Linked DNA regions of Homo sapiens: region 2 is linked to region 1. The links come from fine-mapping of genetic effects on gene expression. A gene starts in region 1. The other region holds a variant in brackets. All regions are shown on one strand. Distances are between the middles of the regions.

Region 1 (5,369 bases):
TAAATAAATAAAGTTGAGAGAGGTTCATGAAGAAAAATTACAGGCCTCTCTGTGATCACATAATGGAGGAATCTGTCCTAGTAAGGCTGAGGCTAGGGAAAGCTTCCCTGAAGTCATGGCATTTTAGTAGGAACTTCCTGAAGAATGATGGGGGTTCTCTGGACAAAGATGAACGGCACATGGAAACTTTATGAGTCGAGAAGTTCCACAGATATGAGGGACAGCAGGGAGACCTGCAGGCTGGAGCCTAAAGAACAAGGGGACAGTGCCTGAAAGTAGGCTAAGTGGATCAGCAGGCACAGGCCACCTCAATCCTGGGTGCCCATACTGGCTTATGTGAGCAAAATACATGCATTAAGCCATTCAACAAACATTTATTTAGCAACTGCTACAAGCCATCACTGTGTATTGGGGATACAACAGTGAATACATCTCACAAATTTCCTGTCCTCAAAGAGCTTACAGTCTAGTGGGAGAGACAGACAATGAACAAACAAAGAAACAAGGAAATATCAGATATACAGTTAAGTGCTGTGAAGGAAATAGAACAGGGTGATGTGGCAGGGAGTGGCTGAGGGACTTCCTTAGTTTGTGTGACCTGGAACAGCCTCTCTAAGGCTCTGCATCAGATATCTGATATGTGATACCATATGGGAGCAGGCTCTGAAAGAACACTACAAGTAGAGAGGTAAAGGCAGGGGCTGCAGCAAGCCTGATGTGTTCAGGCACTGAGCAGAGAGAGGGCCAGGTGGTCGGGACTTAGCGAGAGGGTCGCCTCAAAAGAAGTGAGGCTTAGCAGGGCACGGAGCAGTGCGGCCGCAGGTGTGGTGGGAAGGGTGTTCCAGGAGAAGGAGCCACCTGGACACAGGCTTGCAGTCATGAAACAATACGCAATTATCACTCCCGGCATTCTACATGGCCTTGCCTGAGACCGGGCTGGCCAGGATCTCTGGGAACCAGGAGGAGGGGTCTGCGGCACCAGGACTGAGTAGAAGGGAGAGAGTGGAGAAGGGGAATTGCAGAGAGAAAACCAGGGGCTGTTTTTCTCTCGGAGAGGCGGGTAGGCACTGGGCGGGCAGAAGCGCCGCTATCCACCCGGATGCGCAGCTGCTAAGGGGCCGCCTCTGCAAGCGGCTGCAAATTCCCGGAGGGCAGCGTCTCCTTTCGCTCTGCTGTGTCCGTAGCACATGGCAGGTACTTGGCCCATCAAGAGTGAGAGAGGGTGAGCGAGTGAGTGAGTCACCGGCTTGGCGAGGGTCTCCTCTGACCCACTTAGCCTTGCCAGCGCTCAGAACTGCCAGCCCTGCTGGGTGCTTGGGACTTTTCAAAGCCCTGGGAATTCTCCAAGGGTCCACAGTAAGTCTTCTTGACCTAAGCGGGAAAGAGCGCAGGCCCCTGCGGGGTTGGCTTTTACATGGCATTTATAGACCCGCCCGGAGAGGGTGCGCTGCGCTCCCGCCATAGTCCCACCACCGGTGAGCGCCGCCCCCACTCGGCTGACTCTCCGCCCGCCCCGCGCCCCTCCCCTCACGGGCTCTGGCCTTAACCAGAGCTCGCGGACTGGCGGGGACAGGTCCCACCTCCTGGCTCCCAGGACGGGTCTGCACCAACCTCAGTTTCGGGGCTGCGGCTCACAGAAGTCTAACCTGCCCGGGACGCCCGCACCAACTCCTGCGCGCGGTGAGTTTCTGGGCTCTCGAGAGCGCTGGACTCCCGGCGGAAAGGAGGCTGCCCCGGCTGCAGCTCCGGGGGCTCCGGGGGCTCCAGGGGCTCCAGGACTCGGTTCTCACCGCAAGGGCTCCTGCGGGGCCCATCAACTTCGCCGCTGGGACGCCGGGCTCGGGGTACGGGTCCGGAGTTCTTTGGAGCAATTGAGGCTGAACCTGGCCAGGGGTCATCAGGCTAAATGACCGCAGCGCCAGGACTGGCCCGCCGAGGATCTGGCCGGCCGCGGTGGTAGGGCCCTTACGGAGCTGGCGCCAACCTGTGGGGTGGGCACTGCTGGCCCGGCTTATGGAAGAGAAAACTGAGGCTCGATAAGAGAAAGGGACCAGCGAAGGCGACGCGATGATTTGTGACTGGGGACTACCTGTTTCCTGGGCCCCTCGACCCCATTCTGTGACAGGGAAAGGTCTTCCCTGATTGGCCAAATCTGGGGGCCTGGCACGAGGGCCTCTTGTGATTGGAGGGGTCGACGTGAGCGCTCAGGGGCTGCGCTGGAGTCCCAGCTCCAGCCACTGCGCTCAAGTGGACGGTCGCGCGTGCAGAGGGAGGCCGGATAGCAGACCCCACAACGTGGCTCCTGGGGCCCCGCTATCGAGAGCTCAGGCCCCGCGGGCACTTGCCTAGGAGAGGAAAGAATCTTCCCAAAGTGCAGACAGAGACGGAATTTAATCAGGAGTCCCAGACTTGGAGTTTGGAGGCATGGGCTCTGGTGTCAGGTGACTTTGTTTCCTCCCCACGCCTCCACTTCTCCTTGACCTTGGGCAAGTTTCTTGTGTTCTGAATCTTAGTTTCTTGTCTCTAAAATCGGGAGGGGCAATGAACAGTAGTGCCTGCCTCCCAAGATTGCTTGAGAATTACATGAGACTGCCCCGCGCCTGGCCCTAGGAAACCCTCGGAGAATGTTGGCTGCTGTTTGTTTGTTTGTTTGTTTGAGACAGAGTCTCGCTCTGTCGCCCAGGCTGGAGTGCAGTGGCACGATCTCGGCTCACTGCAACCTCCGCCTCCCGGGTTCAAGTGATTCTCCCGCCTCAGCCTCCCGAGTGCTAGAACTGCATTCATGGGCCCCAGGGCCCTAGCACCAGAACAGAGGGCCCAGAGCTGCAGTCCTGCAGGGTGGCCCAGCCTCACAGGGACTAGAAGCTGGGTCCTGGAGAGCCAAGCCTGGGCTGGGAATTGGGTAGGAGGGTTGGGAGGCCCAGGAAGCCTCCCAGTGTCCCCACACCACCAAGTGAAAGGACACTGAGCGGCCATGACTGGGGGAGGAGGTGGAGGCCTGGAGGCGGCCCATACGGCCCACAAGGGGCTCTATGGGCTTCACTGCAGGCCCCTGCTCTTTCTGGGGCCAAAGGGCAAGCCTGATTGAGGCCCCTCCCAAGGCTCCCGTGCCTGCCATTCTGGCTTTCCCTGGACTGTGACAACAGCCCCTTGGTGGCCACCTGGACTCTGCCTCCCTGCAGGGGGGGAACGACATACTCTTTTATTTTTTTTTTTCAGAAGTAATCATGTACAATATAAAAAAAGAACATTCAGTTAAGAAAACAAAATAATTACAGTCGTCAAAAACCTCTGAAACCCAAAACCCTTTACCCAGTAACTTTCAACATTTCAGTGTAAATTCTTCTAGGCTTTTACCCTGCAGATAAACACACGCATGCACACACAGACACACACACACACACACACAAACTTAAGCCTTACACAATTATCGTGGTTTGTTACTTGTTGGGTGTTTTGACAGTGTCAGGTTTGTATAACTCAATATTTACCAATATTTTCTAATAATTTAATGTTTTCTTCTTATATTTGATTTTCAAGTATTTATTTTTAACCCAATTGGACTGTATTTTAGAGTAAGATGTGAACTATAGAGCTAGATTCATTTATTTATTTCAATTAGTAGACATTTTTAGAGCAGTTTTAGGTTTACAGAAGAATTGAGGACGGAGTGCAGAGTTCCCATATTCTCAGTCTGTCCCTTCCTGCGCGCTTTCTCCTATTTTTCTTTCTATTCTTTTCCTTTCTTTTTTTTTTTTTCTTTTTTTTTTTTTTTGAGACAGGGTCTCACTTTGTTGCCCAGGCTGGAGTGCAGTGGCACAAACACAGCTTACTGCAGCTTTGAACTCCTGGGCTCAAGTGATTCTCATGCCTCAGCCTCCCAAGTAGCTGGGACTACAGGCATGCACAACCACGCCTGGCTAATTTAAAAATTTTTTTGTAGAGATGGGTCTCACTTTGTTGCCCAAGCTGGCCTTGAACTCAAGGGCTCAAGTGATCCTCTGCCTTGGCCTCCCAAAGTGCTGGGATTACAGGCATGAACCACTAGGCCTGGCCTCCCCTATTTTTAACATCATGCATTGATAGGATATTTTTGTTACAGCTTTTTTCTTTTTGAAACAGTCTTGCTCTGTTGCCTAGGCTGGAGTGCAGTGGCACAATCTCAGCTCACTACAGTTTCTGCCTCCCAGGTTCAAGCAATTCTTGGGCCTCAGCCTCTCGAGTAGCTGGGATTACAGGTGCACCACCATGCCCAGCTAATTATTGTATTTTTATAATAGTAGAGACAGGGTTTTACCATGTTAGCCAGGCTGCTTTTGAACTCCTGGCCTCAAGTGATCAGCCCGCCTTGGCCTCCCAAAGTGCTGGGATTACAGGTGTGAGCCACCAGGCCTGGCCAATTTTGTTATACTTGGTGAGCCAATATCGATGCAATGTTATTAATGAAAGTCCATAATTTACATTAGAATTCCCTCTTGGTGTTGTACCTTCTATGGTTTTGGACAAACATATAATGATGAGTATCCAGTGTTACAGTATCATAGAGAATAGTTTCACTGCCCTAAAACTCTCCTGTGCTCTACCCATCCACCCCCCAACCCCCCTACCTATCCCTGGCAACCACTGGTTACTGCCTTTGTAGTTTTGCCTTTTCCAGAATGTCATATAGTATGTATGAATCATATGGTATATAGCCTTTCCAGACTGGCTTCTTTCGCTTAGCAAAATGCATTTAAGCATCCTCCATGTCTTTCTGTGACTTGGTAACCCATTTCTTTTTATCATTGACTAATATTCTGTTGTATGGATGTGGAGGTACCACAGTTTATTTCTCCATTCACATACTACAGGATATCTTGGTTGCTTCCAAGTTTTAGCAGTGAATAAAGCTGCTATCAACATTTGTGTGCAGGTTTTTGTGTGGACATTAGTTTTCTTCTCCTTTGAGTAAATATCAAGAGCGATTGATGGATCACATGGTAAAAGTATGTTTCGTGTTATAAAAAACTACCAAACCTTTTTCCATAGTGGTGGCATAATTTTTCATTTCTACCAGTAATAAATAAGAGTTCCTGTTGCTCCACAGCCTCATCAGCATTTGTTGTCAGTGCTCTTAATTTAACTCTTCTAATACGCATATAGTAGTATCTCATTGTTATATTTTAATTTGCAATCTGTAATGACTTACAGTGTTGAGCATCTTTTTAAATGCTTCTCTGCCATCTGTATATCTTCTTTTGTGAATGTCGGTTAATTTACTTGGCCCATTTTAAAATTGGGTTGTTTGTTTTACTGTTGAGTTTTAATAGTTCTTTGTATATTTTGGATAACAGTGCTTTACCAGATATGTCTTCTCTCCCCAACCATGG
Region 2 (5,369 bases), 31 kb before region 1:
TCCGAGCGGAAGGGCCGCTTCCATGGAGACGGCTTTTTTGAGCTCGGACAAAGCACTCTGGCTGCGGCGAAGGGCCGCGGCCGCCGGGCGGCGCCTTCCGAGGGCGCAGGGCGGACGCGGAGGCCCGAGAAGGCGCGGGGAGGGTGGGGAGGGTGGGGAGGCGAGAGGCCGGGCCTCCGCGTTCCCGTTCGCTGCGGGACAAAGCTCCCTGTCCTGTCCCTTCCTGGGGGCGCCCCTGCCGTGAGAAGCAGAGCCGGCGGTGGGGCCCAGCCCCTCCCAAGGGCGACTCCCCCACCCTCCACAGGCCGGGGCCTGAAGCCGTCACAGCGGGGTTCGCTGCTTCCCATTCAGGCTGTGATGGCCCGAGGCTCGGCGTGGTCTCGCTCTCTTCTCAATTAATCCATTTTAGGGGGACAGGCAATACATTTACATGGTTCAAACACAAAAATGATGGAAAAGTTAGCTTTGAAATACTTGCTTTCCCCCAGCCCTATCGACCCTGTTCTTCGGTGCCCCCTAAAGGCACCTTCTGCTCTTTATCTATCACAGGCTTATGCCAAATGCCAGCAAAAGAATGCAGCAGGGCCACTCCGCTTCTTTGTCACAGCAACCGGAGCCTAGGCTGCCCTTGTTGTGTACCCCTCCCCGCCTCCCTCCTTCCTTCCCTTCCTCCCGCCTTCTTGCTTTCCCTCCCTCCTCTCCTCCTTCCCTCCTTCCTTCCTTCTTCCTTCTCTCCCTCTTTCTTTCCTCCCTTCCTCATTCCTTCCTCCCTTCCTTCCCTCTTTCCTTCCTTCCTTCCTCCCTTCCTTCGTTCCTTCCTTCCCTCTCTCCTCCTCCCTCCCTCCTTCTTTCCTCCCTTCCTCCTTCCTTCTTTACTTCCTTCTTCCTTCCCTCCTTCCATCTTCCCTTCCTCCTTCCCTTCCACCCTTCCTCCTTCCTTCCCTCCTTCCATCTTCCCTTCCTCCTTCCCTTCCTCCCTCCCTTCCTCCCTTCCTTTCTTCTTCCTTCCTCCCTCCTTCTTCTCTCCTTCCTTCTTTCTTCCTTCCCTTCTCCCTCCTTTCCTTCCCTCCTTTCCTTCCTTCCTTCCTTCCGTCCTTCCTTCCTTCTTCACTCCCTCCCTTCCTCCCTTCCCCCTCTCCTTCCTTCCTCAGTCCCAGAGCCCTTTCCATAGGCCTGCACAGAGCTTTTTCATTCTTTCTGACATCCGCCTCAAGTGCTCCAAGGTGTACCCATGATCTTTTCAACGGACACCCTGTGGATAGGAACTTGGGCTGTGTGCTTGCCATTTTGTGCTCATACAGGTGTATCTATAGGGTCAATCTCCCCTGTTTTTGACATCCTGACCTACCGCCCGCTGACCCTCCAGCCCCACCATGGCAGTGTATCCAGTGTCAACTACCTGGAGACTTGCCAGGGCTATAAGTCTTGTGGCCCTGACTTCCTGGCTCAGCAGCCGTGAGTCTCTGCCTGCAGGGGACTCCTGCTGAGAGAGGACTTGACTGACCAGATCTGCCTCCTGGGCAGGCCCCTTAGATGGGACCTTGTGTGAGCCTTTGGTTTCCAAGGACCAAACCATGGAAGGCTCAGAGTGACTAAGAGGTTCAAAGACTCTTAGGCAGTGAGGCCCACAGGAGGTAGGAGCCCCCAGCGGTGTGATGTGGGAGCCGGGTCAGATGCAGAGGCGGAGGACGGGTGTGGATAGGGGCAGGCTGGAGGGGCTTAGCAGGGGGACCCCACACACTGGGCTGCCAGCCTGCAGCCTCCAGGGCCAAGTGTGAGGCCTGTGGGTGTGGGGGTCCTGTGTGTAAGGCCTTTGACTTCACCTGTGTGAGAAATGAATATCTCAGCCAGTGGGTGAGCTCTGTGTCCCACCCAAGCATGAAGCCCACTTTCTAATCTTCATGTGAACTTCATGATCCATGATGGAAGCTGATCATGATGGAAGCTGCCTGTGACACCTTATTCCTATCAGTATCCAATCAGTATCTGTCAAGCACTGTGGGAGGCTGTGCAGTTATTCCCAAGTTGTTCCCTGGAGACGGAGCTTCCCGGCCCTCGTGACTCAGTCTCTGCCACGGGCAATGAGCAGTGTGGCAGATGTGGCAGCTCCAGG[C/A]GCCATCGGTGGCTGCACTGTCGCTCTTTCTCCCTTGGCAGCAGCCTGGCACGTCTGGTAGGGGCTGCTGCATCAGCCTTGATTCTGGAATGAAGCTGACATGGATCAAGACCCAGCCATGCTGAGAGAGGCATAAATATGCGAGAGAAATAAACCTTTGTTATTTGAAGTCCCTAGGACGTGGGGTCGTTTGTTCTTTGGTATGACAGCTTAAGCTGGCCCATACAAGCTCTTACTCCGGCCAGGCATAGGACATAGAGCAGGGAATGGGACAGACGTGGTCTCTGCCCCTGTGGAAACATGAGGACCTGGGGAATGGCCACTCCCCCTGGCAGAGAAGCCTGGAGAAAGCAGGATTAGGGCAAAGGTCTGGAGTTCTGTCTTCAGTGTGCTAAGCTGAGGCGTCAACAAGATAGCCAAAGAGAATTGCCAAGTGTATGGTCAGGTGCACACATCTGCAGCTCAGGAGAGAGGCTTGGTGTGTAAATCTGGGCATCAATGGAACATGGATTGCCAGCGAGGAGCTAGGCACTGTGGGAAAGGAGGTAGCTCACACCCCTCAACCCCCACCACACCACGGTTTGGCCATTGGTTTGTTCCTGAAAAACATGAACCTTTTGGAAATCCACAAAAGTCTCCTAAGGGAAGAAGAAATGGGTGGGAGGAGACTTGCCATCGCATGTAGAATGTGGATTCAGGCTGCTTGTTTTTTAAATTATGAAATAGAAACCCCTGATAATTGAAGGACTTGGGGATATTAGAGTTGGAGGTATTTGAGTTCATATCCCAACCCCCTTAAAGTAGTGTTTCCAAAATTGGGTGTGCATATCACTGGTAGTACACAAGTTGATTTTAGGGGACATATGAAATCTGTTATTTTATAGTTGTGCTATTTTGTTTAGTTACCCTTTGTTTACGGCATGTGATACTGGTTTTCCATCTTCAGTGATGATATGTGCAAGTTACAGAAAGATATTTAAACAAAGGCAATAATTTGATTTAAAGGAAACTTTTAATAATCGCACATATATTGTATAAATATGCCATGAAAACTAAGTGACTCAAGTTTGAGAAACACTTCTTTAAAGGTAAATTCTGATGCCTGCATGCAACAGATGACAAGGGGGGTACGGTGTAGTTTAGTGGCCTGGCCAAGGGCCCTGGCTACTCCATGGTGCTACTGGGATACACAGCCAAACCCGGGAAGATGGTCCATGTCCTCCGAGGCCAGCTGGAAGGGCTTGTCCAGTGAGGCAGCTACAGGGCTGGGCCTGGAGCCCAGGGCTTCCCAGTGGATGCTACTGCTCAGCCCTCCTGGCCCACATCTCTTAACTCACTTGGAGGGGGTCCCTCCTGGAGGCAGGATGCCCCTTCACACCCTTATCCTCCCTTCTCATTTTCCAACGTGGCCAGCAAGTGCTTTGATCTCTCTTGGAAATGTCTCTGGCCTCCTGACTTTAGGAATGAAAAATGTCCACACCGTGGCCTGGTGGGGGTGGGGTATGAGTGTTAAAAATCAGTCTTCCAAGTGGAAAAATATTTGATGGGAATTTTGACAAACAGTTGGGGAAGGATTAGGATAAGAATGAAGTGATTTATGGAAATGAAACTATGGCCGAAAAATTCAAATTTTTTTTGTCAGCATTCCAAATGACAAAATTATTTCATCACTAGACCTCGCCAAGGCTTTCTGAAAGTTGAATACCCATTGGTCTTCCAGGGTCCAGCTCATGCCCTGCACCAAGAGTAGGGATGGGCGAGGAGGGTGTGACCCAGCAGAGAAAGTTTCAGTTTGTGAGCAAACACCTGTCATGTCCAGGAGGCCTGGAGACCTTGTGGCTCTTGTCACATGATGAAGGGGTTGAAGAAATTCATCTACACACTGTGGAACCCGGACTCAGCCCTGGACCACAACTTTCCCTCTGTCATTCATTGGCTGTGACACTGAGAGATCAATTTCCCCTCTGAGCCTCAGTTTTTCCATTTGCAGAATTGGGGAAGGAACCCCCTCCCTCTTGGGTTTGTTGTGCGAAGGCAATGAGGTGTTTCCCATGTGCAGCTGTGAACACCATGAGAACACATGCCACTCCCCATCTTCCCAAGAGCCTTGACGCCTTCTGCATGGGCATGTCTTCCACCGCAAGCAATAGAAACTGTGTCTGGTTGACTGGAGCAAGAATTGGAGAGGATGTGGGTAGCTCTCAGAATCAAAGAAAAAGTGCAAAATCAACCCATAAGAGCCAGCGTGCAGACAGTCCCCTCTTAGGAACTGAGGGACACTCCTCAGGGAGCCATGGCAGCAGCACAGCAGGTCAGCTGTTTCCGTCTTGGCATGGCTCCACTATGACTCAGCGTCCTGGGGGAACCAGAGTCTGATTGGCTTGGCCCGTGTCCCAGCTCCTCGCCCAGGAAATGCCTCAATTGATTGTTACACCAGGACTGCATGCAACATAGACTTGTGCCCTAGAGCCAAATCAGTGAGTGCCATCAGAAGGACCGGGCATGGGGAATGAAAATAAACCACCACCGCCAACAAAAAAACGGGGGAACCAACCATAAATTCCTTCCGCTGAATGTTGGAGCCCATCTTTTCATTTGCATGATCCACCCTCTCCATTCTGTGTCTTCCAGTTGCAGCTACTCTTCAAGGATCACTAAGGACCATTCCACCTACTGAACAGTGATCACAGCATCAGTGTGTTAACTTCTGCTGTGAGCACCAATCTTCACATTCTCCAAAGTGCTGTGTGATTGCAGTTCCTATCATATCCACTCTTGTTGGCTTTTCACACGTACTGATGAGCTGTCAAGGCAGGAGATCCCCCATTTCCAGGGCCCTACAGAGGTTCAGATGAGAGAAGAGACAGGAAGTGAGTGACCTAAGCTCATAAGGCTTGTACGTGATGGAGCTAGGGCTTTACTTACTAATTTTAGGAATTTTTCTGTTTATTCTCTTGAGACTTCTGCAGATCAAAATCATTGTATCTGAAAATAGTAATGTTTTATGTCTTCTCTCTTAATAATTATGTATTCTATTTTGTTTTTATTTTATTGCACTACTAAAAAATTTTACAATAAAAAAGTGACAGCTGATACCTCTATTTATTTCCTGGACTTGATGAGCGTGTTTCTCAGGTTCTGCTGTAAAGCACAATGTGTAAAGTATGTAAAATGGTAATACTTGGCATACAGTAAGTGCTACATAGGTGTTAATATTTGCATCACTCTGTAGTTCTGAACTCATCTGCCTAACAAG

The links. PIP is the estimated chance that this variant, and not a neighbour inherited with it, causes the effect.
Region 2: its variant is fine-mapped to the expression of ALDH1L1-AS2 in testis (GTEx, PIP above 0.99).

Annotation. Positions count from the first base shown.
Region 1 is chr3:126,176,787-126,182,155 of GRCh38, reverse strand. It overlaps ALDH1L1-AS2 (ALDH1L1 antisense RNA 2), which reads right to left and starts at 2,091. Exons shown (of 2, transcript NR_046383.1): 1 at 1,612-2,091. ALDH1L1 (aldehyde dehydrogenase 1 family member L1) reads left to right here and starts at 1,570. Exons shown (of 23, transcript NM_012190.4): 1 at 1,570-1,680. RefSeq lists enhancers at 401-1,154, 1,155-1,910.
Region 2 is chr3:126,207,907-126,213,275 of GRCh38, reverse strand. ALDH1L1-AS2 (ALDH1L1 antisense RNA 2) reads right to left here. Exons shown (of 2, transcript NR_046383.1): 2 at 3,107-4,950. It overlaps LOC124909426 (a long non-coding RNA gene), which reads right to left and starts at 244. Exons shown (of 3, transcript XR_007096060.1): 1 at 1-244. RefSeq lists an enhancer at 3,948-5,147. The variant C/A (reference allele first, on the strand shown) is at 2,114.